Regions from separate parts of the Homo sapiens genome. Here region 1 is linked to region 2. The links come from fine-mapping of genetic effects on gene expression. A gene starts in region 2. The other region holds a variant in brackets. All regions are shown on one strand. Distances are between the middles of the regions.

Region 1 (15,552 bases), 480 kb before region 2:
TTTATTTTATCCTTTGTGATTGCATTAATTATGTTTTTTTCTTTCTATGTTTTTTGATGCTTTGACATCTTGGCCTTTCTGGCCTGGTAAAGACTGCCCCTCCCAAGGCAAACAATTTCTAGAGATAGTTATGGACTCACTTGCAAGTGTGGGTTTCATGCCTTTCAAGTGCAAACCAACCAATCTAAAGTCCATATGCCCCAATCACCTCCTTCACTGGGCTCTCACAAGGTTCTTACACTCCAGATCCCTATTTCCCTATTCTAATTTTCCTGGGTCCAGATATCAGACAACAAGAAAGAGCCCCTGTGTTAGCCCATTTGTTTTGAAATAAAGAAATACCTGACACTGGGTAATTTATAAAGAATAGAGGTTTATTTTGGCTCACAGTTCTGCAGGCTGCACGGAAAGTGTATTGCTGGCATCTTCTCCTGGTGAGGGCCTCAGGAAGGTTGAAATCATTGTAGAAGGAAAAGAGGAAGCCAGCACATTACATGGTGAGAGGCAGCATGAGAGAGAGGGAGGAAGGGCAAGGTTCTTTTAAGCAACCATATTTCACATGAACTCACACAAAGAGAACTCACTTATTACCTCGAGAACAGCACCTTTCCATTCATGAGAGAACCATTCCGTGAATAAAAGACCCCCCACAAGGCCCATCTCCAACATTGGATGTCACATTTCAATATGAGATTTGGAGAGGGAAAAAACATTCAAACCATATCAGCCCCTATGCCCAGAATCCACTGAAGTTATTTAAACTAGCCAATTTTAAACCCGTCTTACTTTGACTTTCTCGTGAAAACCACATTAAAGGCTCTTGCCTCATTTTCCTCCAGCTCCTGCTAACTCCTGCCAGTCCTTTGTGCTTCCCTGCATGGCCTTCCATGATATGGTGTGCCCCTCCCTCCTCTTAAAAACACTAAATTACAATCTTTTTAATAGTCATTGTCTCTTGATCTGTTGCCCTGACCATCCCTAAATAATAATAAAATGTACATTTTGAAACAGGGATATCTGATGGAAAGGAGGGCAGTGGATTGTTGAGTGAGAGGAAAAAAGTCAGCACAACAATTTTTTATAGACTTTCTTTGAGTTCAAACAACTGATTGGTGTTCTGATGAATTCTCAAGCCGTGCATGTATATAGTCCTTAATGAGCACTAATGCCCTGACCTTGTTTGATAAAAGCCTTCCGAAGTAAATTTATGGTAGATGGAAAATTACACTTAAAGCATCTGGAACACTTTTAATTTTCTTATCCTCAGAAAATAATAGAGAATTATCTGACTTACCCCTACAAATTGTTATTCATTTTTAGAAGAAATTGAATAGCCTCATTCTTCAAAATAGCCAACCTATAGGAGCACCCAAATAATTTAATCTTCTCCATCAGAATGAAGGATAAAGGCACAAAGACATTTAACTAGGGACACATACACAAGAAAAGCATTCCATAAAATTGCCAAGAATAGAGTGCATGTTAATAGGGAATATAAAGCTGGTTGGTGTCAAAATCAGTGTTCTCCAAAGATTTTTGGTGACCTATCTCCTCAATACAAAATCTTGACGCATTCTCCAATATATTAACTTATTTCTGAAGCATAAGTATGTGTGCTCTGTCAATCTACCAATTAAATAGTAGTGAAGCATAATTTATTTTCTAATTTCTAGATTGACACAGAGAAATAGAATATATTATGTTCTTTCTACACTTCGTTGCTTCATTTATGACAATCCCTCCGGTGAACAAGCCTCCTTTTAGAAAACGTTAGGAAATCTATAGCTTGCAATCTAGTCCAGATTACTGAAATACCCTGTACAGGGGAGAAAACATTTTTTTCAGGTTGTTAGTTGTGACACTATCCTGAAAACAAAAGTCAAATTAACAAAAGAAGCAGAAGTTTATTAACATTTTCTATACCCGTCACACAGTAGATGCCTCTGTCCAAAAGTATCTCTTTGTCAAGGCAATGGTTTAGGGGCCTCACTTAAATAGCATTTTAACAAGAATCATAAATCCTTTCTAGAGAGAAGAAAGATGCCTTCTCTGGGCCCATAATAAGTGCTCCAGTAAGGAAGGATTGATGTCCTGCCACCAGGCAATAGAGGCTGAGGCAGAGTGTTCCCCTGTGTTTCTAATGTCTTTAATTTAATAATTCTCAGTACTTGGGGTAGAAATATTTTGTTTTTGTTTTTTTTTTTCAGTTGCCCTTTTGAAACTTTACTTTTAGAAGGCTTTACATATGAAAAGGCAAGATGGTAGCTTTGGAGGGATTTGGTTTAGAGGTTTTGAGATAAGAGATTGGCAAAAAGAGAAACCATGGAAGCAGAAGAAAGAACAAATGTCATATATCCTAATGAAACAGTTTTTTAGTCTTGAGAATAGTAAGTTCAGTTGAGCAGTTGTGTTTTATTTCAGGAGGTGGTAGTGTAAGTGGGTTGTTGTTAGAGTTAATTCTCTATATGGTATAGGCAAACAGGTATTTAGTAAGAAACATTGCTATGGGAGCAAAAGAAAAACAGAGATTAATATCTGGAGCAACCTACAAACTAGGCTTGAGTTTTGGAGGGCAGTTAGCTGAGAAAATTTCAGATTTGTGTTTGAAATATCTACAATTGCGATGGAAGTAAACAGTGACAATCTGACAAATTTTCCTAGATAATAGTTTGTACCAGATGTTTCTGTGAACTTTTTGTCCATAAATACATTTATGTGTGTTTTCTCTGAAGTTAATATCAAGTTGTCTAACTTTAGCTTGTAGGGCTTCAGAAAAGCATGGTTTAAATTTTAGTGATTTTAAGTCAGGAAACTGGGAGATAAATTAAAAGCATTAGTCTAGAAAGTTGAGGCCAGATAATAGAAGAAACTACAACTTGAAATTTAGTTCAGAAAATGTTTTTAATAAAACCTAACAATGGAGAGGGCTAGAATCTAATAACAGGTATGCTGTAGAGGATTTTTAAAAAACATTTATGTATATATATGTGTGTGTGTGTATATATATATATATGTATACACACACATATATATATACACATATATATACACATATATATGTGTGTATATATATGTGTATATATATACACATACACACACACACACACATACATATGATGGCTTTTTTTTTTTTTTTGAAACAGAGTCTCGCTCTATCAGCCAGGTTGGAGTGCAGTGGCACGATCTCGGCTCACTGCAACCTCCGCCTCCCAGGCTCAAGCAATTCTCCTGCCTCCACCTCCTGAGTAGCTGGGATTAAAGGCGTGTGCCACCACACCTGGCTAATTTTTGTATTTTTAGCAGAGATGGGGTTTCACCATGTTGGACAGGCTGGTCTTGAACTCCTGACCTCAGGTAATCCGCCAGCGTCAGCCTCCCAAATTGCTGGGATTACAGGCATGAATCACCGCACCTGGCCCACATAGAAGATGTTTTTTTAAAAACATATATGATGTTATTATATATACAATGTGTTACAAAAATCATATATATGTGTGTGTGTGTGTGTGTACACTCAAAATTAAGCCAATTTTTACTAAGGTTTTTTTTTGTTTTGTTTTGTTTTGTTTTGTTTTTTAAGATGAAGTCTCACTCTTGTCCCTCAGGCTGGAGTGCAATGGCGTTATCTCAGCTCACTGAAACCTCCGCCTCCCGGGTTCAAGTGATTCTCCTGCCTCAACCTCCCGAGTAGCTGGGATTACAGGCGCCTGTCAGCACGTCCAGCTAATTTTTGTATTTTTAGTAGAGATGGGGTTTTACCATGTTGGCCAGGCTGGTCTCGAACTCCTGACCTCAGGTGATCCACCTGCCTCGGTCTCCCAAAGTGCTGGGATTACAGGCGTGAGCCACTGCACCCAGCCACTAAAGATATTTATAGTAAGACTAATTTAATTGTAAAATAAGTTTTAGCTTTAATATACTTGGCCTAATTATTTGCATAAAGTGAAGCAAGCATAGTGATTGGCCACATAGGCTCATTTTTCTTTAATCTACTTTGTTGGAAATTATCATAAGACATCTCAGAGTAAACCTTTAAAACTTCTTTAGGCTAGGAAGCCAAGCCATGGACTTCTCATCAGATTTTATCTGTGGTAACTGGGTAAATTATTCTTTTCTTGAGGTCCCATATTATTTTGAGGTTCCTGGGCCTGTCAGAAAGTGACATTTTTTACTTACCATAATGCTGAAGCCTTGCAGGGGAAATGCATAGACAAGGTACCAGGCCAGTTCTTTCAAGAATGTTAATGGTTCCTTAGCATTAATTTTAGTTTCTTGAAGTAGTCTAGTCGTTTCAGAAAATGTGACATCCCAGTCAAGGCCCCAGTAACATAACCTGTGTTTTAAATTGTTCCACTAAAGAAAGAAAAATTTTACTGAACTTATGAAATAACTATATTGTTTTAAAATATGAATACCCACAAATAGTTTTAAATTCTCAAGGAATCAAGTAGAGACAAAGGCAAATGTTTAAATTTTGCTGACAAAAGCATATTTTACCCAATTGCTGCATGCTATATGTAGCTTATTAGAAGAAAATAGTTTCCTTGACTCCAGAAAGAAATACATAAAAATAATCAATAATAATTTAAGCAAAAGGAAGTCCTGAAAAAATCATTTTATTCCTGTATCAAGTTTAGTCCTATGTGATTAAGTCATGTTCTTCTAAAAGTTGGGCTAGTAATCTTTATGAACCCATCAATGTTTTCATTTGAGTTCTTAAAATTTTTACACAGTCCAATGGTATGATCTACAAAGTTATCAGAAATCTATATTTAAAAGTATTTGTCATGATCCTTTTCCATTAATTTTCTTGAATAAGAAGCAAATTTTATACTATAGCCAATTGTAAACAGTCTTTTGAGAAGAATAAAAGTAAAACAATAAATGCCTGTGGATGACAAAACCCTTAGAATAGCTATGGCTAAGGATGCAATTGACAAGGAAATTTGGTAATTTCTAAGGCATACAACAATTTAATATAATAATCAGAATTTTGACTGGTAACATATACCAAGACGTATCATAATTTTTAAAAATCTCATACAATTTTGGAGCACATATTAATAACACATTTATATAAATATAACACAAATAAGGTTAAACATTATTTTTTATTTGACAATGCTTCCCCTATAATTTAAGATATCAAATAAGCCTAATATGTCTCTTTTGGACTTCTGTCTCTTTTTTTGAATGTCTAAAAGTTAGTTTGAGGTCAAAAAGACTTAATTTAGAATTTGAAATCTGATTTTGAGAAGCTTGTCAAATGTGTCAAAGGTACAAAACACTTTATCACAATAGGATCACAGGTCACTGTGAAATAATCATCATTTATTTAGTCAAAGTGATAATTAACAGATTCCAAAAAGTAAAAACCTTTACTCTCTGATTGGTAGGAGACAGAGTTTTTTGAAAAAAAGACCTAATAAAGATAGGGTGAAACAAACATTTCTCTCTGTTTTTATTTTTTTTTGTAGTTTTCTCAAAAGGAAAACCAAAGTCTTCTATTATCTCTTATTAATAATATACAAAAAAATCGTATTCAAAAGAGAAAATCAAATTCTATCTTTGTATCAGTTGTATTATTCATACTAAATATAATTTCAATAAAACCTTATAAATAAATCCATCCAATCTTAATTAGTTTTGACCACACAAGATTTCTCTAAACCTTTTACTATGTCTTATAATGTTTTTCAATTTTCCTTTTTCTCCAACTTCTATATCCACTTAGTTTATTTAATTGCTTCCTTTCTTCATTTATTCTAAAGTGACATATAAACTAGAAAAAAATCACTTTTTTAACAAAAACATAGTTTCAAATGTCATAATCTCCTTTATGAAAAAGTCTTACATTTATTATATATTCTGTATACAGAATTGTTTCCCTTTTTATTGCAACTTTTAGTGACCACATATTAGCCAGAATTTTAATTTTTAGGAATCTTTATAGTGAATACCTAAGAAGTGGATAATTTTTAATTGTCAGTCATGTACTAGCAATTTATTAATACACATTTTATGATTTTTAGAAATACAGCTTTTTAATGGAATTATTTTTCAACGTGGAACAGAATATATTTACTAATATATCTAAAGATCTTTTGTCTTTCTGAAATAAGAAGCCTAGATTTAGTAATCAGTGTCTTAGCATTTCATCTTTTTTGAAAATGATGTATATATTTAATGACTATCTATCATTTAACTTAGCTGAGCAAAATGTTTAGGTTATTGTTACCATAAAGAATTGAGAAATATTTTTCATTAAACATAAAAGCAATGATTAAAACTTCATTTATAAGCTTTATCTCACTTTCATCTATTTTATTTATTTAATCTTAACAATTATGGTTGGAAAATTTTATGAGACATTAGATAAATCTAGCCATCATCTCAAGTTAAATTTTCTATTCACCATTTTTATATTACCATATGTTAGGCAAGTACCATAAAATAAAGAACCTTAAAATTAAACACATGTGGCTGGATGCAGTGGCTCACGCCTGTAATCCCAGCACTTTGGGAGGCCGAGGTGGGAGAATCACGAGGTTAGGCGATCGAGACCATCCTGGCTAACACGATGAAACCCCATCTCTACTAAAAATACAAAAAAAAAAAAGAAAAAAAAAATTAGCCGGGCGTGGTGGCAGGCGCCTGTAGTCCCAGCTACTTGGGAGGCTGGGGCAGGAAAATGGCGTGAACCTGGGAGGCAGAGCTTGCAGTGAGCCGAGATTGCGCCACTGCACCCCAGCCTGGGCAACAGAGCAAGACTCCGTCTCAAAAAACAACAACAAAAAAAATTAAACACATGTATGTTTTGCTAATAGCTCAAGACATAGTTCTTTTTATTAAACCAAGAATTTTAAACTAGTCTTATTCATCAAAAAAAATGTATTCACATCACATGAGCTTGAAAAATATTTGGGCTATTTATTTTCTTTATGGGTACTTATCTGCCTTTGAGTTAATTTGGTACCATGTAGACAATATACAAATATGTGTATAGACATATACATACATGTAAATACAACATATAAAATACATATGCACATATATATGCATCTAAAAGCCAAAGAGATCAAGGAGTTTAATACAAAAGAGCAGAGAGCTTTAGATTTGTCTACTTTCAACTCTTGGAGTTGCAAGGAATCTGTCCACTTAGAAATATTGCTGTTCCATGAGAAAATAATGAAGTTTCCTTCC[CA/C]AAAAAAGGAAACCTCTCTGTTTTTCTTTGGCATCTTTTCTGTTTTTCTCAAGAGGTCCTAGTGTCGTTAGAAATCTTCCTTAGGTTTCCTCATGTGACCTCAGGGATAGCAACTGGAAGCAGGGACAGAGAAAAGTAAATGAAAGAGCAAGTCCTTGTGGCAAAAATTATGTCACCAAGAGGATAAACAGGCAGAGGGAGTTTATAGATTAATAGTTAGCAGGGATTTACAAAGAGAGGAATTTAGTCAACTGAGAAGCCTCTGTAGAGAGAGAACAGAAGTCTTAAGAATACACACACACAAACACACACACACACACACACACACATATATATATATAACCTAAATATATGTATACTATAGGTAAAATTTTAAATATGTAAGTCTTTAAAAAATTAGCAGATATTAGCTGGGCAAATGGCAAATATTCTTGTGCCTTGTTTCCTTGGCTTTTTCTTTCTGAAATGTAACTCTCTTTCAAATCTGATCTCTGCTAGAATACTACTTAACTGATCTCCTCTATGTTAACGTTTTAAAGCCGTGGTAGAATTTACAACTCCAAGGGACTGAGAAGGCTCTCTTTAAAAAAATACTTTTAGATACAAAAGTCCAAATTTTCAAAGGTATATCCACTTTTAATTGTAACTTAGCACCAGTAAGCCTTTTTTTTTGAGACAAAGTCTTGCTCTGTCACCCAGGCTGGAGAGCAATGGCACAATCTCTGCTCACTGCAACCTCCGCCTCCTGGGTTCAAATGATTCTCCTGCCTCAGCCTCCCGAGTAGCTGGGATTACAGGTGCACGCCACCACACCCAGCTAATTTTTGTATTTTGTTAGTAGAGACGGGGTTTCACCATGTTGGTCAGGCTGGTCTTGAACTCCTGACCTCGTGATCTGCCTGCCTTGGCCTCCCAAAAAGCTGGGATTACAGGCGTGAGCCACCACGCTGGGCCAGTAAGCCTTTTTATGGCTTACAATCCGATGCAAGAATAGCATCCCTAAAGAGAGTATAAAAACGTAGTGACCCCTCAAGATCTAAAGTTTCTTCCAAAGAGTATGGGTGCAGTGGCTCAAGGCTATAACCCAGTGCTTTGGGAGACCAAGGCAGGAGGATTGCTAAAGGCCAGGAGTTTGAGCTCATCCTGGGCAATATAGTGAGACCCCCATCTCTACAAAAAATTTAAAAATTAGCCAGGTGTGCTGGTGCATGCTTGTAGTCCTAGCCACTCCAGGGGGCGGAGGCAGGAGGATCACTTGAGCCCAGGGGATTGAGTCTGTAGTAAGCCATAATCATGCTACTGCACTGTAGTCTGGGTGAGAGAGCGATACGCTGTTTCTAGAAAAAAATAAGATAAAATAAACCAAAAAGAGGCTCTAAGAAAGTAATATCCCTCCTTATTAGCAAGGCAATGAAAGTTGAGATAATTAAGAACAATTCCCAAAAGCTGGCACATTTGGACAAACAGACATTTGGGACCCCCAACTGAACTCCCACATGGCTGCCTTACACGATTAACAAAATCTGTGCCCTTCAAGGTGTTAGAGATGAGAAAATAAACTTGCTCGTTAGAAAGCCAAACTTCTTAAGAAATAAAACAAGACAAAAGGAGAACCTTATGAGGCTTTTTCTTCTCATGACAAACCATACGAAGATACAGAAACAAGGAAAACAAAGACCATCCTAGGAAAATGACAAATCAATAACCAAATAAGTATGTACAACAAATCTACAAGAGTCACAAATTCAAATAACCATTTTTTACAGATTTTTTTTCCTGTTAATATGAACCTGGAAAGGCAGGGACAAGGAAAAGAATTTACTTTCCTCTCTCCACCAGGTACCACAGAGGGAGAAGCTGGCTTGAGTAAGAAACCTTACCTTTTTCTGTGGACTTTTGCCAGTTCTCTTTCAGGATTCCCTCTATAGGTCCCAGAACAAGTGAATTATCTCTGCTTTTCCAGGCTGCATTGAAAAATTGTAGGGGAGAAATCATAGTTTCTTTTAAAATTCTTAGTTGAGACATCTCCTAAAAACAAAAAGTCAAATTAACAGAAAAGTAAAAACAACCAGAAGTTTATTAAAACATGCTGTACCCATCACGCAGGAGAGGCCTCAGTTTAAAAGTATTTCTCTCTCAAGGTAGTGGTTTATGGGCCTTGCTTAAATAGTACTTTAACAAAGAGCCATAAATCCTATCTAGTGATAAGACAGAGGAGAGAGCAGTTCCAGTCTTTTAAAAGGCAGGAACATGTGAAAAGATTGTAAAATCTGTTCCCAGATTCTTCTGGTGCTTGCTAGTGCCTTCCCTGGGCCCATAAGCAAGTGTCGTCTCCAGTAAGGAGGGAACGATGTCCTGCCACCAGGCAAATAGAGGCTGAGGCAGAGCATTCTCCTATGTTTTTAGTGACATTAACTTAACAATTCTCAATATTTCAAGGAGAAATATTTTGGTTTCATTCATCTGTGATACACTTTGGACATCTGTCTTTACTCAAATCTCATGTTGAATTGTAATCCCCAATGCTGGAGATGGGGCCTGGTTGTGAGCATTTTGGTCATGGGGGTGGATCCCTCATGGCTTGGTAGCTTCACCATGGCGAATGAGTTCTTAAAGATCTGGTCATTTAAAAGTGTGTGGCACCTCTCCATCCACTCTCTCTCCCCACTGCTTTCGCCATGTGATGTCCAGGATCCCCGTACACCTTCCACCATGAGTGTGAGCTTCCTGAGGCCTCCCCAAAAGCAGATACCAGTGCTATGCTTCCTGTACAGCCTGCAGAACCATGAACCAATTAAACTTCTTTTCTTATAGTCAGTCTCAGGTATTGTTTTATAACAGTGCAAAAACAGCCTAATACAACCTGCCTACCTTTGTTCCTTATTCCCTGCTTTCCCCCAGCCCCCATTATCCATTCTTCACACAACTGCCGCAGTGATATTTTTAACATTAGTCAGTTTTTGTTTTTCTCTTTAGATTTCTCCAAAGTCTTCCAACTGGTCAGAGGGTGAGTGTCCCAGATGGAATGTAAGCTGAGCTTTGGTATGCAAGTGATTTGATAAGAAATTGTTCCCAGGGAAACTGGTAAGGAGCTGTCCCCAGGGAAGAGCTGAGAAAGCAGGACAAGAAAGGACAAAATCCAAGTGAGGGTGTCATCACAGGCAAAATCCCGTAAAGCGCAGCTTCAGCCTAATCCCACAGAGGAACTCTGAAGAGAAAATTCAGCCTCTGTGTTTTCCCAACTACAAGCTGCACCTATTAATTATCTAATTATTGGGTGGAAGATCGTGGGCATACATTTTCAGATATTTCTCTGAAGTGTGGACCAGGCAGGCTCCAGTATCTTGAGGACATTCCTCCAAACAAGATTCATAGAAGAAAAGTGCACAGAAACTGAAATATGCACAAAAATAGTCATATAGATCCTAAGGAATTGGGGGACCAATATTATCTATTACATAATTCTACTTAGAAATCCAAACTACTTAGCATGGTTTTGTTTAATTAAGCCCTGACAAATTCTACAAACGCCTGTCTCCCACCCAGCCCCTCACACTAACCAAACTAATCTCTGTTGTCTTGCTGTAACCAAGGTTGATCCCTGTGGCCTATTTCCTTTGCCCAAATTCTCACTTGAACTCCATTGTTATATGATTGACCCTATCGTATGCTTCTGATTTAGTTAAAAATGATTGCTTTTCACAGAGTCTGTCCCTCATCATCTGCTTCAAACTTCCATACTTCCCAAACTCTTGATTAAATGAATTTGTTTTATTTTCTTTATAGCAGTTAATGCCATTTGAAATGATCTTGTTGCTTTATTGTCTCTAACTCACCTCATTGCAACATAAACTTCATGTCTGTCTTGTTTACCCTTTCAACTCCACCACACAGAGCAGTGCCTGATACAACATAGGTGATCAACAGTTATTTATTTAATAAGCAAATAAAGGGCCATACATGACCTACTTACATTTTATGCCTACTCCACCCTCACCTCCTTGGATTCCTAACTCCTATTGATAGGGTTGCTACTAGGAAATTAAGAACACCTCATCAAGAATAAAATAAGAAGACATTTAAGAAGGAACTTCCTTATCATATAGTGATGCAGCTATATAAGTTATTAGAGTGCACTGCCATGTTGTTTAAACTTCTTGTTTGGAAATCTCAATGAATCCTTGACTGATCTCGCTAAGGTCCCTTGCCTTGAACTTTGTAGCTTGGGCACATATGAAAAGCTGTTTCTTTTTATATAGGGTATACTCTACTCTAGAAGTCATCAATATATCTAAACATAACAGGAAGAGAATACAGCCCAAGATCTCTGATTTATAAAGTGGCATATATGGGAGTCCAAATCAAACTCACAATACCTCAGATATACAGAGAGAAATATGCCTAATTTAGTTTGCCTGTAACCAATGTCTGTTACTCCCCACGTTTCACTATGGGTTAAAGGAAAAATTTCTACTTTGGATATTTTATGTTTAAAACTTAATCCAATTCAATAATTTGTTAAATAAATTTATAGGAAGTCATTGGTTTGGATTGAGTTCCTGCACTAGGCTTCAACAGACAAAACCAAAATGGAGTCACTCGTGCTAAACTTCTTTATTTAACAAACTGACACTAAGTTGTTTATCTGACTTACCAAGAAATCAGAACAGAGAAAGATAATAGCCAAATCCCCAAACATTCCTGTTTTATCAGACATGATAAAAAACAAAACGTCTCCTCTGCTTTAACCCTAAAAAGGAAAGAAACCTGGAGTAATCTAACAAATGCTAGCCAATCTGCTTTGTGTTCCATTTTTCTAATCTCTTCAGCCCTTTCTGCCTATAAAGCCAGTCTCCTCTGCTCAGCTCATCTGAGTGCCTTTTGTAAATCTTTAGATGAGAAGCTCTCTGATTCACAAATTGCTAATGAAGGCCAATTAGATATTTAAACAAAATTTGTTGAATTTTTGTCTTTTAACAAATTTAAAGAGCCTTTCAAATTTGACAAATTTAAATTATATTAATAATTTGAATAATGTAAATCCAGTTTTGTGATTTAAGATTCCATTTAGACAATGATCAGTCTTACCAGGAAAAATTTCTCAGTCACTCAAATATCTCAGGCATAGGCCTGTTTGTCTGGCTCTTTCCCAGAGTGAGATACATATCTAGGAAAGAAAGCATGTGCCTCATGTACACATCTGGCCAGAGGAAAGGCTCAAGGCCCTTTATTGTGATGTCCTTTGGCTTCAACCCAGGCTATGCCACTAATCCATGCTTCTGCTGCATCCAGATGAGCAAAGTATATGATTGATATCACTCAAAGTCTTATTTTTCTGTACATTTTCATTTGGCCTATGTTCTAAGATTTTTTTATTGCAGGTAGAAGATATAAAAAGTATAAAAAGACATTTTTAGAGAATGTGCATAGCTCAATATTTATATGTGAAAATAGGTAATTAACAATATTATTGAAATCATATACTGTATATTTCTTAATATAATGTGCATGAAAAATCAAAATTGTTTCATTTATATTACTACATATAATTTTTTCTTTCACATTTTTGTCACACTCAGAATTCTAATATTTTATAATTATAGTCTTGGAAATCAATAAATTAAACTTTCCATTTTACAAATGAAAAAGCTATGACATACAACAGGATATAAGAATTTTTTTTAAGTGTCAGAAATCTGGGAGTTTCAAATGTGGAATCTAGGTCCTAATTACCAATATAATGTATTTTCCTCTATCTACTCTGTGTGTGTGTGTGTGTGTGTGTGTGTGTGTGTGTGTGTGCGCGCGCGCGCACGTGCATATATAGACTGATGCAGAGAGAGAGAGAGAGAACACTTTCTTTCATACATTCATTTATTGATGGCTTATTCCACACCTTTGTTATTGTAAACAATGTTGCAGTAAACATGGGAGTATAGACATCTCTTCAACATATTTATTTTATTTCCTTTGGATATATACTCTGTCGTGGTATTGTTGGGTCATAGAGTAGTTTTATTTTTTTTTTTAAGGAACTTCCATATTGTTTTCTGTAATAGCTGTACTACCTGATGTTCTTAGCAACAGTGTACCATGGTTCCCTTTTCTCCACATCCTTTCCAACATTTATTACCTTTTTTTTCTTTCTTTTGGTAATAGCTTTTCTAACAGACGTGAGGCAATATGTCATTGTCATTTCAATGTGCATTTCTTTTGTGATTAAGGATTTTGAGCATTTTGTTATATACCTGCTGGTTATCTTTTGAAAATTTTCTGTACAGATCCCTTGATTATTTTAAAATCAGGTTATTTTTCTTACTACATGGTTAAGTTCCTTACATACTTTGGATATTACCTAGTTATATGATATATGGTTTGCAAATATTTACTCTCATTTCACAGGTTGTCTCTTCACTCTGTTGATTGTTTCCTAGGCTGTGCAGAAGCTTTTTAGTTTGATGTAATCACATTTATATCTGTGCTTCTTTTGTGTGTGGTTTTGAGTTCATATCCAAAAATCATTGCCCAAACCAATGCCATCAAGATTTTCACCTATATTTTCTTCTAGTAGTTTTACATTTTCAGGTCCTGCCTTTAAGTCTTTATCCATTATGAATTGATTTTTATACATGATCTGACATAAGGGTTAATTTTGGTCTTCTGCATATGGATATCCAGTTGCCCCCAAACAACTTATAAAGAGATTGTCCCTTCCCCATTTTGTGATATTGGCACCTTTGTCAAAAATCAATTGACCAGAAATATATGAATTTCTGGACTCTCTTTTCTGTTATATTGGCCTGTCTTTCTATTTATATGTCACTACCATACTGTTTTTACTATAATAACTTTGCAGTATATTTTGAAGTCAGGTGGTATGATGCCTCCAGGTTTGTTCTTTTTTCCTCAAGGTTGCTTTGGCTATTTAAAGCCTTTAGTAGCTCTATACAAATTTTAGGATTGTTTTTCCTTTCCATGAAAACTGTCATTGTGGTTTTGCTAGAGATTGCATTAAACCTGTAGATAGCTTTGGATAATATGGACATTTAAATAATTTTAGTTCTTCCAACTCAGGAACAGAGGATATCTTTCCATATATTTGTGTTTTCTTCAATTTCTTTCATCAATGTTTTTTAGTTTTAGTGTGCAGATCTTTCATCTTTGGAAAAATTACTTTATTCTTAAGTATTTCATTTTTTGTTAGCTATTGTAAATGAGACTGTTTTTGTTGTTTCCATTTTTGAATATTTCACTGTTAGTGTATAGAAAAGTTACTGATTTTATATATTGATTTAACATCCTGCAACTTTGCTAAATAAGTTTATTTTCAATTTGTGGCGAAGTCTTCGGTTTTCTATGTATAGAATTGTGTCATCTACAAACAGGGACAATTTAACTTTGTATTTTCCAATTTGAAATTATTGTCTAATTAATGCCTCATTTCCTTTTCTTCATTCTGTAATTTAACTAGAAGAGCCCCTACTGCTTACCAAAGCTGTTATCCACTTTTTAATATATTTTTTTTTCCTCAGGACTCTGTGAGTCATGATTCCATCTTCTTATTAGTTACCTCTAAGGAGATGATTCACAAATAATCTTTTAAAAAACTTCTTTCAACTTCCTCCTGTCATTTACCACCCACACTGAATTACTTTTCATGTAATCACATTCCTGTCAGTAGCAGAGTAATTTGCCCACTATTTTAAGTATTAGGTGTATCCCAACCAATACCTTGACAGGGCATTCAGTATTAAAATTAATATCTCAACAAATAAATTGAGTTCCTATAATTTTTTTCATCAAACTCCAAAGACCTGGAAATTTCTGGTGGAGAGAAGGTGAGACATACAACTGTGTCTTCAGTGATACTCACATGCTTACATGAAAAGAACAAGAATATTCAATTTCTACTGCTTTTTCTACTGCAAGTATATCTAAGTCTTCTCTGTATGGAAATATACATTACAGATTATAAAATTCCATTCTCCTTTACCATAGCTCTGTGATCATAGGGAGGCCAGGACTTCAAGTTGAGAATCATTGGCTTGTTAGAAAGAATTAACAGGTAACTTCTATGTTGGGCTTTGTATACGTTGGACTGAACCTCAAAACAGAGGCTGTGATATTACATAGCCTATAAAATATACATTTCTAGGGAATATATATATATTTTTTTCATTTATTTTATTTTATTTTATTTTTTATTTATTTTTTTTAATTTTATTATTATTACACTTTAAGTTTTAGGGTACATGTGCACAATGTGCAGGTTTGTTACATATGTATACGTGTGCCATGTTGGTGTGCTGCACCCATTAACTCGTCATTTAGCATTAGGTATATCTCCT
Region 2 (15,552 bases):
CCTCTGCTCAGTGGCTAAAAGCAGGTTCAACTGATGATATAATAGTTCATGTCTCCCATCAAGAGCAAATCACCTCTGATTCTTGAATTGCTATGGCAGAGAAAAGAGGGCCACACCACAGTTAGATAGTTTACATGGCCTGTTGAGAGAAAGAAACAATGATTCTCTTAGCTCCAATTCCAACTTCCCTAAGAAGAACTGATTAGCTTGCTAATCAAGGAAGTTACCCCTTTCCCTCCCTGATCCAATAAACTGTAGCCAGTGGGGAAGTTTCTCATTACAAAAACTTGCCCTTGGAATCTCCACCATGTAAGCAGAGAGTCAGTAAAGTAAATATGTTTATATGGTATATACTTTACTGGATTTTTTAGCCTTAGTCATTATATCCTCCGTATTTTAACATCATTGTTAATAAAGTAGAAATAATGCCCACGTTGCTTGTTTTGGGGGAGGATTAATTACAATGAAAAAAAAAAGCCCTAGCACATAGAAAGTTATGCTCCTTGCATTAAAGAAGGTTATGGTCTAAAATCAAACCATAAGAAAAAAATTGTCATTCTTATTTATTTTGAGTAAAAACATTGTCTTCTGACTCTATAACATAATTAGATGATTGCCAAGCTCTATTCCAGTTATTTAATGCCAATGATTTTCCCCCCGTTGATTCCAAACCATTAAACAAATAAAACAAAACAAAAAATCAAATGCACTTTAAAATCAGGAGATTTGTTCATATCTTAAGGCTATTCCAAATCATGCCACAGTAGAAAGAGATTTCAAAAGGATTCAACTTGATTTGAGTAACGGCAGCCTCTCCTGGACAAGGTGACTAATTTGAATTTGATAACTCTCATTTAGATGAATAAATTCTATTAATCTATAATCTTAAGAGAATGATAGATATATTAATATTAATCAGACATAGTTTAATAGATACTGATGTATTTATACATCTTATGTATTTAATATTATATATTATACAGCACTTATCTTGAATTATTTCATTCACCAGACATTTATTGAATACCTGCTATGGGTCTGAGCAATGTATGAGGGACTTAAAATTCATGGAAATGTAATTAAAATATAAAAGTAAAAAATATAAACTTTATTTCTCAACATAAGCTCTATCAAGTTCAAGGCACTTTAGTAAACAATGATCCCAGCCATTTAGTACATTCCTAAAGAACTGAGGGTCCTGGGAAGTTTACCACTTCCACCTCTTGGTAACCATTGCTTTGATTGTGCTTTGTCCTTAGGATCATGCTGGTAAAGCCATGTTCCATCTATTATTAAAATTCTTCAAAGAAATTCTTCAGGATCTTAATCTCACTTATTTAAAATCTCCATTGAAAGCTCTGCTCTTGTCTGCAGCTGATCTGGGCTCAATGATTTTGTCACCCATTGAGTGGAAGGTTTGCTCAACTTTAATTTTTCACTCAGAATTGTGTAAGCTGAACTAATTGGGATGTCTATGGTCTTGCCTATTGTCTCTGTTGTTAATTATTGGTCCTGTTTAGTTAGGTCACAAACAAGATGAATTCTTTTCCTTGAAAATTGATGTAGATGGTCTGCGTCTGTGGGCTTCATCTTCAGCGTTGTCTCATCCCTTCTTAAAACTAGTTATCCATTTGTAAATGACTGGTTTCTTTGGAGCATTCTTGTCATAAACTTTTTAAAGCTTCAGTGAGCTCACCATTCTTCTACCTAAGCGTCATGATAAATTTGATGACTGGTTTTGCTTTAATTGTAGCAGAATGCATGTTTCTCTGCTAGGGGCTCTTTTCAAACTTTTGTTTTACCTTTCTCAGAGCCTTAAATGAGATCATCATCAGTCATGTTATAACAAGTTAGTATGAGTTTATTTTGGTGCAGTAAAGTTTTGAAATCCATGCATAGTTTTTATTAATAATATGTACTTTCTGTGAACATTTTGAAGACCCCTCATATTTCCGAGTGGAGAATAACCATTATTTTCTGATCAATCTTATTTTTGTTATTTATAGGAAAAGAGGTGAGCCATATAATAGAATAAGATGTCAGATATGAGAAAATCATCTAACTGAGAGTACTGCAGAAATAATGTGACCAACATTCTCAGAAGAGTAATGCTGTATGCCTTCCATGAGCTCAGATTTTAAGGAAATCCAGTAGGTAATCTGAAGGAGAAGCTAACTTCCTAGCTATCACCATAACACAGACTGCATGTTAGCATTATAACTGCATATCCATACAGAATTTTCCCTATGCTTATCTGATTTGGGATTTAAAATATGCATTCAAAAGAAACAGGAATTTATGATAAAGTCTAGCAATATTTATTTTAATCTGATTGCATTCTTCAGGAAAATATTGCACTAAGTCAGGTTTAGATACCACCATGTGGCAGATAATGTAGCTGTGAAAAGTGTCATATTCCATTTGGGTTGTTAAAATGAAGTACCATAGCCTAGGTGGCTTATAAACACAGAAAATTATGTCTCACAGTTCTTGAGAAATAGATCAGGGTGCCAGCATGATCAGATTCTAGTGACGGCCCTCTTTTGGACTGCAGAGTGCCAGCTTTTCATGTCTATTCATGGCAGAAAGAGAGTAAGTGAGCTCTCTGAAGTCCCTTTTATAAGGATACCAATCTCATTCATGAGGGCTCCATCTTCATGACCTAACTACCTTCCAAAGGCCTCTCCTCCCAATATCATTATGTTGGGAGTTAGGATTTCAATATATGGGTTTTGTGGGGCCACAAACATCCAGTCCATTGTAGATAGCTCCTTAGCTTTCCTTACCATCAAGAATATATTGAGACCTTTGGTATAGTACAGTCTGAAAAATTCTTGACAATAATTCTGATTAGCCAAGCCTGCATTAGTTGCCTGTACCTGGACCCTTCAACCATGGCCAAGAGTCAGGGCCAAATAGTATGAACAAGGCCACTTCATAGACACATCTGCCCAATCATGTGTGGAAGCTGTTCTCAGAGAAGGAGGGGTAATTATGAGTCAGGCATCTACTATCTGTGTCTATTATAGTCTTAAAGGAGTGAGGCTGAAAAGCAGAGCCCAGAAAAGTGGCAGTGTTTTATAAAGGATCAAAAATTCCATTTTCTTCCTTTCTAGACTATGACAGTTATTACTGACTATCTCTGGTTGACCACGATGTTTTCATTAGTACAGTACAAACATATTTGTATACTTTATCTTATAAAGATGAGAGGATCTTAAGAAAATAGTGTTGGGCTCTTGAATACTTTTATATTTCTGGAGACTAGAATCTAGGCACCGTGATGTCACACTTTTAACGCAACTCTTTGAGTGCTGAATACTTCCACTAGAGCAGGGTACTATCACTAACATTTATAGTGAGTAGCTATAACCATTCTGTGTTGAAACTAATGAGGAGTTATGAAAGGTAATCTAACTGTGGGATCTAAGACAAGGTAGCTAGAAAAGTTACAGGAAAAAAACCAAGTTACAAGAAAAAAAAGACTTGTTGCTTTCACAGTCTTTCAGAACTGGCATGCTGTATGCAAACATTTGAGAAATTATAATAAAGAGTTTTAAGGAGACACTTCCATTGGAAGAAAAGAAGTCAATATGTGGAAAATGTTTACTACTTAGGAGAAGCTGTTTAAAAATATTTAGATTTACATCTATATTGATATCTGTATCTATAGCTAAGCTTCCAAGTCATTAAGAATGTAGAATTCACGGGTCTTTTTTGGATTGAAAAAGAAGAAGGGTGAATAACTTGAAGCAAGGAGGGAATATAAGATACCAAATTAGCAGGGCAATATAATCTGGGTAAGATTTTATAGACTTAAAATGGTCCTTTGAGAAATATCCCAGGGTACAGAAAGGGTCACTGAGTGCTTCTTGGGATTGGGCTATCCCATAGGGTAGTCTAATATGTTCTGATAGCCCTATGTAATCCATATTTGCATCATTATTCTACTGAATACCAAATGCCTTAAAATTCTAATCATGCCATGGCATCCTAGGAGTCTGAGTGCTATGCTTTGCTGTCTGCGTTGCAGATGTGATTTAACTCTGATTACCTTGATTTGTCAGTGAATTTAGGCCCAGTAGCATTTAAGATAGTAACTGTCTGCGGATATCTGACTGAGTATTAGAGAGTATTGTCCCTGATGGCAATAGCTCAGTAATTTGAAATCCTGTGAAAGCTTACATCTGGTTGAAGTAGAAGGTCATTTCATGTGAGAGTAGCACTGTCACGTGTCTGCATTATCCACACATTTGGTTACTGAAAGACTAATATATGCAAGCCCAGCCCAGGGTGGTATGCAATGGTAAGCCAAAGGATGAGGAGGAGCTAAATCATGAAAGAATCCTGATATTCACTTGGACACATGACTGCCTAGAGTAGTCTACATTTTCCATGTAAAGGATGGAATGAAAGGGGAAATGGTGTATGCAACTTTAGGAAATTTTCCCTGGATACAAGAATGCTCTTCTCTTCCTCCTTCTTCCCTTTCGTCCTTGCTCTTGCAAGGTAGGTGTGATTGCTGGAACTGAAATTAGCAACAGTGGCCACAGATGGCTGAGCAAGAAGACAAAGTGTCTATTTCAGTTTGGAATGCTTTTGAGGGCCATACCTGCACTAGACCACCTACCTCTAGATTTTCATTTGAAAAAGAAACAAATTTGTCTTGTTTAGGTCACTGCTACTTTTTGTTTCTGTTGCTTGAAGCCAAATTGAATCTTAACTAATATAGTATGTATGCATCATTTAAAAAATTATTTTTGCTTATCAACTTTTTCCCACTAACTATTGATTTCATTCCGATAAGGGGGCTTTTATTGAGTATGAAAAAAGCAAGATTACTTTGAATATGTAAACATTACATACCCTCTCCCCTTTTATAGCAATTATGGCTGAGATGTATATCATTATACAAAATCCTTGTCCATATCTCTGCTTTTTTCTGTAGATGAGATATCTATACATAGAAACACTGGATTTAGTGGCATATATATTCTATAAAGCAGTTGTTTCATATTGTCAGCTTCCTTTCTAGAGCAATTGTGTCACTATATATTACTAGCATGGAGGCATGCCTGTCTCAACACACTTTCGTTAGAGTTTAGTAATAGAGCACTGTTGCTATTTCAGTTAATTTTATGGTAAAAACATGAAACATGATAGATCTCCTAAATGGATCTATTTTTATGTATTAGATTTCTATAGGCAGAACATATTTCCTTGCATTTATTGGCCATTTGTATTTATTCTGTGAACAGATGGTTTTAAGGTCTTTTCTAAACTTCCATTCTGTGGGGATCTTAGTATATTTCTTATTGATTTGAAAGGGTCTTTGGTCTAAAAATTTTAATTAGTCATTTAAATGTTTTAATTCTCTTTATCTTATTTGATTAGATAATCACTTTTTTTTTTCATTTTTAGAGCCCTTTTCCCTTTGGTAAAAATTATTTTTTTTCAATTTTAACGGTGCTGAAGCCTACAGTGCCATCTTTCTAAAAAACCACTCTAGTTTGCACAGAGTTACATCATATGATAGTATCTGTGCTCAAACATCATCTGTATGATGTCTTCTCCTTGAGAAGAAGGTGTTAAATATATGTAACATAGGTGTTAAATACAGTAGCTAAGAGGACACAGAATTTATTTTATTTTTATGGAAGCTTCACCTTAGAAGAACATTGGCAAGAGTCATGGATTTCCTGGCAATGAAGTGGGATGTTTTATGTCTTAAATCAGATATAGAAGACTATGTCCATGAGATTAAAAATGACTTGGAAGCATGAAGTTTGAGATTAAAATATAAGCAGCTGCCTTAAATAATGCTGCCTTGACATTTGATTAAGTTATACAAACCATTAACCTATTCTCTTTCTTTCATTGCTTTTCTTTACTCATTGGTTATTTTTATTCACACACCCCGATTTTTGGTTCTTTCTCCCTCGTTATTGTCTTTGTAATTTTGCTTATTTGTGGTCAACTCCTCCGTGGTGAACACTTCCAATTACTTATTTAACTGACTATGCTTAGTTTTCAGTTAATATTTCATTTATATAGATACACATATATGTATATCTATGTGTGTACATATGTGTGTGTATAAATATACATGTAAAACTTTTACTTTGAAATTTCATTTTCCTGCATCCCTCCAGACCTCTGTTGTGTTAAAGATGATTCTAAAAACTGATCTATAGCTACTATTTATTTAATATTCTCATGCTACCACTAATAATCTTTAATATCTATATATTGTCATTATATATTTTTATCGATCTAAATAAATATTAAATATGTATTTAATGTTTCTGATGCTACCACTAATAATCTTTAATATCTATACTTGTCATCATATATATTATTACAATGTTATTTTTATTACTTGGTTGTTTTATTATACTTAATACAACCATTAAGCATTTGAGAAATGAATTGAGTAACTTCCATTTTTCCTCCTTTACAAATAAGAGCCTCTTGTCACAATTGGCTAGAGTTTACTCTTTCCAAAACTATTTAAGTAACAAGTGACTCCAGATGTCAATTTGTATTTTCTTTAAGTACCCAGGGGAGTTCATGGATGTCCTGTATTAAGCAAATTCAAGTAGCATAACTTCAGCTTGTGAACATCTAGTTGGTCAGAATTCAGCAATATCATTAAATCTCCCTTCCCACCCCCAATTTTTTTAAAGGACTAACTATGCGCAAAGGACTGTAGATATAATCTTTCCTTATACAGATGATTAAAACTAGCCATTTGCATTCAAGAAAAACTGTAATCTGAAGAAGCAAATGGACAAACCATTAATGATTAAAAAGGAACAAGGAAAAAGGCAGAATAAAATAGGTGTTAGAGGAGATGTCATCAAAATGTTACAGGGTATCATGAAAGGAGTGATTTTTGGGGAAGGAGTCTTGGTGAGAAGAGGCTTCTTGGAGAACGTTGGATTGGAGTTGAGCTTTAAAGAATGAATGACATTTTAACTGTCACTTTGTGTTGGGTATGTTTTTAATTCTAATGAGGTTTCAGGTTCTTCAGATATGCTAGGATTGATGTTACCTCTTAAAGAGCTCCTAGAAGTCGTTAGGTCATTCTAAATGTATACATTGAAATACAATTTGGGAAATTTAGCTAGGGATGTAATGTGCTTGTTGAATGAATATGATAAATCTTAATGATTTGAGTGTACTGGTATAGAAAATAACATCTTAGCCATTTGAAATCACGACATTTTAGAGCAGGAAAAGACCTTACAAATTATGTAATCAACAGTCTCCTTTACAAAGAAGGCACCAAAAGGTTCAGCAATTGACCAAGGCCACTCATTTAACTTGACCAGACTTTTCCTCTGTCAGAAGGCATGGTTTTGGAATCCGCACCTTTCTGTATCCATTATGGTAATTTCCATTGATGATGTGAAATAAGATAATTGAATCTCCACGATTGTTCATCAGACAGGGATACTTTAAACCGTGCAATGAACTTGCAGGTCGAGTTAAGTTTGAAGGAACATAAAATTGACCAAAGGCAGGAAACATTTTCAGACTCGGTACTTGCATAATGAAAATACGGAATAATCCGCACCTGAAAAAATGAGACACTGGCAGGACTTTCAAGCTGATGTCGTTTACTCACCTAGGGTGGAGTGGGAGAGGAAGACAAGAGGAGAAAGGGGGGAGGGAGGTGATGGAGAGTGGGAGGGGGAGAGAGGGAGGGAGGGACAGAGGAGGAAGTGGAAGAGAGAGAGAGAGAAAGAATGAGAGAGAGAGAGAGAGAGGGAGAGCGAGCGCCGAGGCGGGCCTCGAAGCCACTGGAGAGGTACCCTTTGTCTGACAAACCCTGAAAGGGAAGCCTCTAGTAGCAGCCCTCCCGTTCCCACCTCCAAGCGTTTGCCGAACTGCTAGGTGGAGCCCGCGCCGCGGAGCCCACGAGCACTCCATATCCGGGTTTTGCCGGCCACCCCTTTCCCTGGCGCGAGCCCCCTCCCCGGCTCTCGGAGCTCTTGCCGCTGGCCCGCCCGACCGCTGCTCATTCTGGCCTCCGCTCCGGCCCCGGCTGCGCCTACCCCGCGCGCAGGCTGCACGGTCCCCGCGCGCCCGCGCTCTGACCCGCTGTCTGCGCGTCGCCCCCCTCGCCTGCTGGCCCGGCACCGCTCGCTCCAGTTCCCAGGAGCGGGGATGCAGATGCTGCAGCTGGTCGGGGTGGGCGCCGCCGCCGCCGCCGCCGCCGCTGCTGCTGGTTTTTCTCGGACTGCTCGTTGCCTCCGCTCCGGCAGCTGCTGCCGCCGCCACCGCCGCCTGTGACTCGCCCCCTCCCCTTTCTTTCTTCTCTTTTTGCCTTGGTCCTCTTCCTACGGGTGTGCGCGCGCGCGGGTTGCACGGTTTGCTTTGGCAGGAGCTCGCTCGTGTGTGCGCGTGTGTGAGTGTGCGTGTCTGGAGAGCGCCAGTGCCTCGCTCGCTCTTGGGGAGTCGAAGAAGAGAAAGAACCGAAGAGACAGCGGCGGCGGCGCAGAGCCCGGGGCCGCGCGATGAAGCTCCCACATGCCCGCAGCTGCCCGGCCCGGCCGGCGAGCTAATCATCCACCCCACGGGCTCGGGGTTCGCCGGCCCCCGGGACGCAGCCCTCGGCGGCCGGGCGCCCGCTCTGTCTGCGCGCCCCCTCCGTGCACCGGGGAAGGAGTTTGTGTGGCTCTCGCTCCGGCTGTCCGCGGAGGTTGCGGGCTTGAGAGGGGACCCTCGGCTGGGAGAGAGCCTCGGGAGGACGAAGAGGAGGACGGTTTGGCGGAGAAGCCACCCCTGGCCCTCGCGGCTCCCCCTACCTATTCCATCGCTCCCGCTCCGAGGCGGAAAGGGGAGGACGTGGAAGAAGAAAAAGAAAGAGAAGGGGGGTGGGGTGGGAGAACTGGATATAAAGATCGGCTGGGGGGATGGTGGAAGATTTTTGGTCTCTTCGGCAGCGTCTTTTCTTAAGCGGCGGCGGCAGCAGCAGCAGCAAGAGAAGGAGAAGCAGCCCCAGCTATGACTGCCGCATGTTAATAGCTGCCGCTGGGTCCCTCGGCTGCTGCTGGAGACAGAGCCTGACTCCGAAGTTGTGCAACTGTGGACTGGGAGAGACATTTGAACCCTCTTTTCTTTTCGCTCCCCTTTTGCCCCCTTGGGGTGTGTGAAGCGAGGAACGTAAAGGAAGGCGAACATTTGGCTCTCTTTTTCCTTCCCCTTTCTCCGTGGCTGTGTAGCGGAAGAAAGGGAAGAGAGACTTTTTGTTGTTGTTTCCTTGACTGGGGTCTCCACCCTCCTGCTGCTTTCTCTGCGCTTCGATTCTCGTTATTTGCCGCGTGTGGTTGGGGGTGTCTGCACAGGGGCCGGCCGGTCTTTTGCCCCGGGCTCAATGGCTGGATTGTGGAAACTGCACCCGCCTTCAGGTTGTTGAGCAACTGATGGGACGATCTCAGGGACCGGCGTTTACGAAAGGTAATTTATTCTTCGCACTCTTCATAATAGGGGTCGCCCTGGCCGGGCGCAGGCGGCGGCATCCACCGGGCGGGCAACAAGAGGGGGTGCGGGGTGCATGCACACTCGCCCTTCCACTCACACACTCGCCCTCACACACACACACACTCATCCGGTCGTGGTGCGGGGCGGGAAGGGAACCTCCTGGCTGGTGGGCGCTCGGGTCTGGCGCGGGTTGGAGTTTTTTCCAGCCATTGGGCGATTTGACCGGCCGAGGGGAGTGAGGGGGATAAGAGACTGGGCGCATTCGCAGCTGCACACGCTGGGGAATAGGAACAGTTCCCACCCCGTTAATTTTCCCTCTCCTCTCACCCCAGTGGCATCCCCTGGTGGGGGCAGAAAGCGGACAGGAGGGCGACTTTTCTCCGTCAGGCTGGAACTGGTGCCGCTGGAGGCGGGAGCGGGCTGGAGGACGGACAGGGTCTGGGTGAGAAGCTGGGCTCTGGGAAGATGGAAAATGCAGGGTGCCGAGCCCGGCGCGATTCTCCCTCAACGCTTGCCTGGAGCATCCCTGGCCCCTTTTGCCCAGGTCGCGCCCCTGAGTCTTGGAGTCGCGCTGCCTCCCCGCGCCCTGCCTGTTGTGTCTCCTTCACGGCAGTTTGGTTTAGACCTGCGTGCCCAGGCTTTGTTAGGCGGTTTTGGCTGGAGAAAGCTGCCACTTTCGTGGGTGGCCCGGGCTGCGCTGTGCTGGTAGTGGGCACTGGGCGGGGGGCGGCGGTGTTGCACGAATCCGGGCGGCCGCGGCGCCGGGGCGGGGTGGGCAGAGCATTGGTGGTCGCGGTTGGCGGGTTACAGGTAGGAGAGAAGGCACCTCGGCGCTTCTCTGAGGAGAAGGGAAGGCTCCAGGCTGCAGCGCAGCGTCTGAGCTGCCGCGACCCAGCCTCCGGTCCCACGTCGGAGCTCAGAAGCTTAGGGTGCCAGGCCCCCAGCACTATAGGTGGGTGTGTGTGTGTCTGTGCGTGTGTGTGTGGTGTGTAGGGGTGGGGGCGACCTCCTCTACCAGCCTTACTTGGCGGCGGAGTCAGCGTTTGAGTGTGTGCGCATTTTTGCGCCCCAGGGACGGCAGAGAGATATTTGCGGGGATGCCGGAGCTGATGCTGCTGGAGCTGAGCTTGCTTATTGAAATCGCCTGGGATCCTCTTAACTGGAAAATCTGGTTTGAGGAGGCCACGGGGGCCCCCGCAGGGTGGCGAGGAAACCTTGCCGTGTCCCCTTCCCCTGGAGAGGCGCAGCTCGGCGACATGCGTGCGGCGCGTGAGAGTCGCTGGTGCAGCGCTCGATGCACCCCAGAATGGCCCTGATGAGAACCTCATAGGGTAGTCATCTCTCCAGCAGGTTGAAGTAATCGAGTCCAGCCAGCGTAACTCCTGGTCCCTGGAATTCTCTGGCCACTTTCCTACCTCTGATAGAAACATGCGCTGCTTTTATTTATGGCCAGAGATATCATAGCAGTTGGGAGAACTCGAGGCTTGCGAGCCACCTCCAGGGTGTCTCCTCCCTGTGTCTGCGTGTGATCCCTGCCTGCGGTAGTTAGAGCACATTGTAAACAACGGTGTAAGCACTCCTGCCACAGTCTCCTTTAGAGTCTAACCTGCTGTCGTCTGTTGTGTTTACTTTCCTGGTTGTATTACTCATTAGGAAGTATAAGGCTTCTTGCACCTCTGATTTTACATCCTTCCAGCCAGCTGCTGGGGAAATGAGGAGACGCATAGACTCTGGCAGGAAGGAAAAATTGCCTTCTGTGTTTTGCTCTGAAGTAAATAGGCAGTCTGCTAATTTTAGTGTCATATGGGCTTTCATCACTAGTTAAAGAATGTCATCGTAGAATCTGCAAAGAAACACTTCTTTAGCACTTTTTCATTTGGAGACTTTCCTATATTTCCCTATGAGAATAAACAGAGTTTGGTAAGATTTCTTTTGTATATTTTTCCATCTGTAATGATTCTAAATGATCTGGACTTCTGGCGCCCAATTTATCTGCATGTGGATTACAAATAGGATAGAATTCTCAGCTCTTTTATAATCACCAAAATAGGATACCAGATAATTTGTATAGGAGTTAAGAGGATATTTGTGTGTTGAATTATCTCTCAGCTTTGTTTCACCCAATCTTTTTTTTTTTGTAACCAAAGCAAGGGTAAAGACTGTACATAGATAAACACAGTTTATAAAGTGTTACTTTTGCAAGTGAAACTGCTTTTTACTTTCAATAATTAAAATGTATTAAATTCCTTAGGTCTAGATTAGCTCTGACTGCTTTGGTGTTTGTTGCAAATACTTGTGCTCTATTTTGTTTTAAAAAGTATAGGGCTGTTAATGGAACAGTGTACTTTATTTTTAGGTACAATAATTTCTGGATATCTTCATTATTTTTTAAAGACCTTGACCTCTTGAAAAAGCATAGATTGCAAAAGACACTGAATCACTGATGCCTGACTTTAAGTTATATTTTTATGAGAGATATTGCTAATGGCCATCACCCTAATAGAAAACTTAGAAAATTTTGATTTAATTCATGAGAATCTAGCTTCACGTATTTGTTTCATTTCTAGATGATACGTATTAAAGTCTTTATACTTGCAAATATTTCTGAGGATTAAAGAATACTTGTCCTCCCATTTTCCAAGATCTAATCACAATGATTCCCAGTCCTTACATTATAAGATTTGATCAGATCTGTTCTTTGTTTCCTAGCAGCATGTGTTCCCTAGCAGTCATACATTCCACAGGTCCTGATGTCATTAGAACTGTGTGTGTCAGTGTATTGTGCTGTCTTTAGCTGAAGGTGAATGTGTCAGAGTATTTGAATGCCATTCCATAGCTCTTCCTTATCACTAAGTATTCAGTAACCTGATCTATTTGTGTATATGGTTGACTAGACTATTTCTACAAAATCAGGGTAGGAGGAATGATTAACTCAAAGTTTTATATGAACTATTAATTTTTTTTTTTAGATAGAGATGTTAGGCTGCATCAGGCATCCCCGGCCTGAAGAGTGATAAGCCAGTATGTGATTTGCCTGATGGGTAAATGCTTTTGATGTCTCATTTTTGGTTGCTTGGTGTGATTATCCTTCAGACTGAGAGTGCTCCTCAAAAATATGAATGGAAAGTCTTTCAGAAATGATTTTCTTAATCATGATCTTCTTAACATTTTGCAGATTTAAATACTCTTTTCCACAGGGAATAATAGCAAGTATGGCACTTACTGGCTGCAGCTACTGTGGCTGGCATTGTTTCTACTAATTAGGAAAGGCAGATTTTTTTTATGGATTTGATTTACCATTGATTCCTTTGTGAGCTATAGCCAAGGAAATCATAAATAGTAGATTAAAAAGACTATAAAGTCATGAGGATTGAAGTTAGTCAAATAATATGATGCAAAACTGAATTGTTTTTCAGATTGGATTTGGACCACTTTAAGTGTTGGTTGAAACTCTCTTTGAAAAGGACTGCCAAGTAGAAGTGACAGTTACTGTTAGAAGTGGGGAGTTTTGGCCCAGAAATCAGCAAGGAAAACTGATTGCGATTTTCATATTTAGGATCAAACAGTGATTTTAAGAAATGCTGTGCAGCCTTAATTTAGCATGGTGTGAATGGCTAGAGTAGTTGGAATTTAAAAAGGATGATCTGTCCTTAAGTTTTGCAAATGGCTATTTTGCCTTCTCTTTCCTAGATTTGCATTATATTCAAAATATGCATTTGCTCACTTTGGGAGGAACCCTAAAGAATACAGCTGTATTGTAATTTATTATTTGTTTGCCCACAGGACATATTTACACTTAGATTATTATATTTATGTCTTCTTATTTCATGCGAATGCATTTCTTCATAGAATAACCAATTTTATAATTAAATAAAAAGTAAAACTTGCAAGTATGAGTAAGGTCCTCCTGACATTTTTCCTTGGTTATCTTTCTGTGTTTTGTCGGGTAGGGTAGGGTGAAGGCTAGGGAGTTGTTGATCAATGGAGAGAAAAATCCAGATTTTTCATTCATTGTAATACATTGTGAGAATGTAGCGTGAGCATGCTTGTAAATAGCATTTATGCATCTAAGGTGTGCAAGTTTTTCCCCAAATCTTGAATGTCATTACTCTGATCTGAGTGTCAGCATGGTCCAATAAAATTAATTCTACTGCTGCATAAGAAACCAAGTGTAACTTTTTTCTTAGAATTGTGACATGTGCTTATGGATTCATAAGCACAAAATGTAAAAGAGAAAATAGCTGTCCTACTTGAAATTAATTGAACTTCTTTATTTATTTTGAGGGGTGGATAAAAGGGGAGCGTTTCTATATTTGCTCATAATAGGTTCTATAGACCTTGATAAATCATGTCTTCCTTATGTCTTATTGACACTTAAAACAGGAACTTAGTTTCAATTTTAATGAATGTCTTCATAAAAGTGATTACAAATAGGTGTTAAAAGAAGTGAAAATTTGGTCCATATTATTCAAGAATTTAAATGGAATATTGTGGATGGTAATCCTACTTATTTTGAAAACTATTTTTGGGATGGAAAAATAAATCATCCAACTGAATGTTTCTGCCTGGCAAAACTTCCATGTCAGTTACTTTGTAAAGCAAACAATGCTGTTTTATCAGTGTTTTCAAAGTGTCCTCTGGGGAACCCTGGGGATCTCTGACACCCTTTCAGAGGAAATGTGAAAAGAAAACCTTTTTATAATAATGCTAAGACATTATTTGCCTTTCACTCATATTCTTTAACACGTGTTCAGTGGAGTTTTCCAGAAGGTATATGATATGTGATGGCATCATTGCTCTGATGGCATATGTCATATGTTCTTATGTATTCTCAAGTTTTAGAATTTTCCCAGTTTATCAATACTTGAATGGTGACAGTTACAGATATCATAATCAAAAGTCATTTTAGAGGCTGAGTGCAGTGGCTTACACCTCTAATCCTAGCACTTTGGGAGGCTGAGATGGGCAGATCACTTGAAGTAAGGAGTTTGAGACCAACCTGACCAACATGGTGAAACCCTGTCTCTACTAAAAATACAAAAATTAGCCGGGCATGGTGGTACATGCCTGTAGTCCCAGCTATTCGGGAGGCTTGAAGCAGGAGAATCGCTGGAACCCAGGAGGTAGAGGTTGCAGTGAGCCAAGATCGTGTCACTGCACTCCAGCCTGGTCCACAGACCAAGACTGTGTCTCAAAAAATAAATAAATAAATAAATAAATAAAATAAAATAAAAACATGAAGTCACTTTAGGTCATTTATTATTATTATTATTATTATACTTTTAAATTCTGGAATACATGTGCAGATGTGCAGGTTTGTTACACAGGTATACACGTGCCATGGTGGTTTGCTGCACCCATCAACCCATCATCTACATTAGGTATTTCTCCTAATGCTATCCCTCCCCTAGCCTCCACCCTGCAACAGGCCCAGGTGTATGATGTTCCCCTCCCTGTGTCCATGTGTTCTCATTGTTCAACTCCAACTTATGAGTGAGAACATGTAGTGTTTGGTTTTCTGTTCCTGTGTTAGTTTGCTGAGAATGATGGTTTTCAGCTTCATCCATGTCCCTGCAAAGGACATGAACTCATCCCTCTTTATGGCTGCATAGTATTCCATGGTGTATATGTGCCACATTTTCTTTATCCAGTCTATCATTGATTGGCATTTGGGTTGGTTCCAAGTCTTTGCCATTGTGAACAGTGCCACAGTAAACATACATGTGCATGTGTCTTTATAGTAGAATGATTTATAATCCTTTGGGTATATACCCAGTAATGAGATTGCTGGGTCAAATGGTACTGCTAGTTGTAGATCCTTGAGGAATCACGACACCATCTTCCACAATGGTTGAACTAATTTACACTCCTACCAACAGTGTAAAAGCATTCCTATTTCTCCATATCCTCTCCAGCACCTATTGTTTTCTGACTTTTTAATGATCACCATTCTAACTGTCATGAGATGGTCTCTCATTGTGGTTTTGATTTGCATTTCTCTAATGTAGGTCATTAATTTTTAAGAGTATAAAAGAGTCCTGGGCCAGAAAGTCTGAGAATGGC

Alleles and levels. Positions count from the first base shown, and alleles are read on the strand shown. Sizes are in standard deviations (SD) of each study's normalised expression.
In carriers of allele C in region 1, the expression in subcutaneous fat of the gene that starts at base 8,026 in region 2 tends to be higher than with CA alone (small effect, 0.34 SD a copy in GTEx).

What was found. PIP is the estimated chance that this variant, and not a neighbour inherited with it, causes the effect.
Region 1: its variant is fine-mapped to the expression of ADGRL3 in subcutaneous fat (GTEx, PIP above 0.99).

Annotation. Positions count from the first base shown.
Region 1 is chr4:60,714,589-60,730,140 of GRCh38, forward strand. No RefSeq gene overlaps it. Among named protein-coding and RNA genes, the nearest start is that of LINC02496, 28 kb to the right of the region's middle. RefSeq lists an enhancer at 9,389-10,588. The variant CA/C (reference allele first, on the strand shown) is at 7,204.
Region 2 is chr4:61,192,301-61,207,852 of GRCh38, forward strand. It overlaps ADGRL3 (adhesion G protein-coupled receptor L3), which reads left to right and starts at 8,026. Exons shown (of 27, transcript NM_001387552.1): 1 at 8,026-9,465. LOC124900173 reads left to right here and starts at 6,787. Exons shown (of 3, transcript XM_047416555.1): 1 at 6,787-6,874; 2 at 7,842-9,465. The coding sequence starts at 6,787. The coding sequence ends at 9,016. RefSeq lists an enhancer at 10,172-10,744.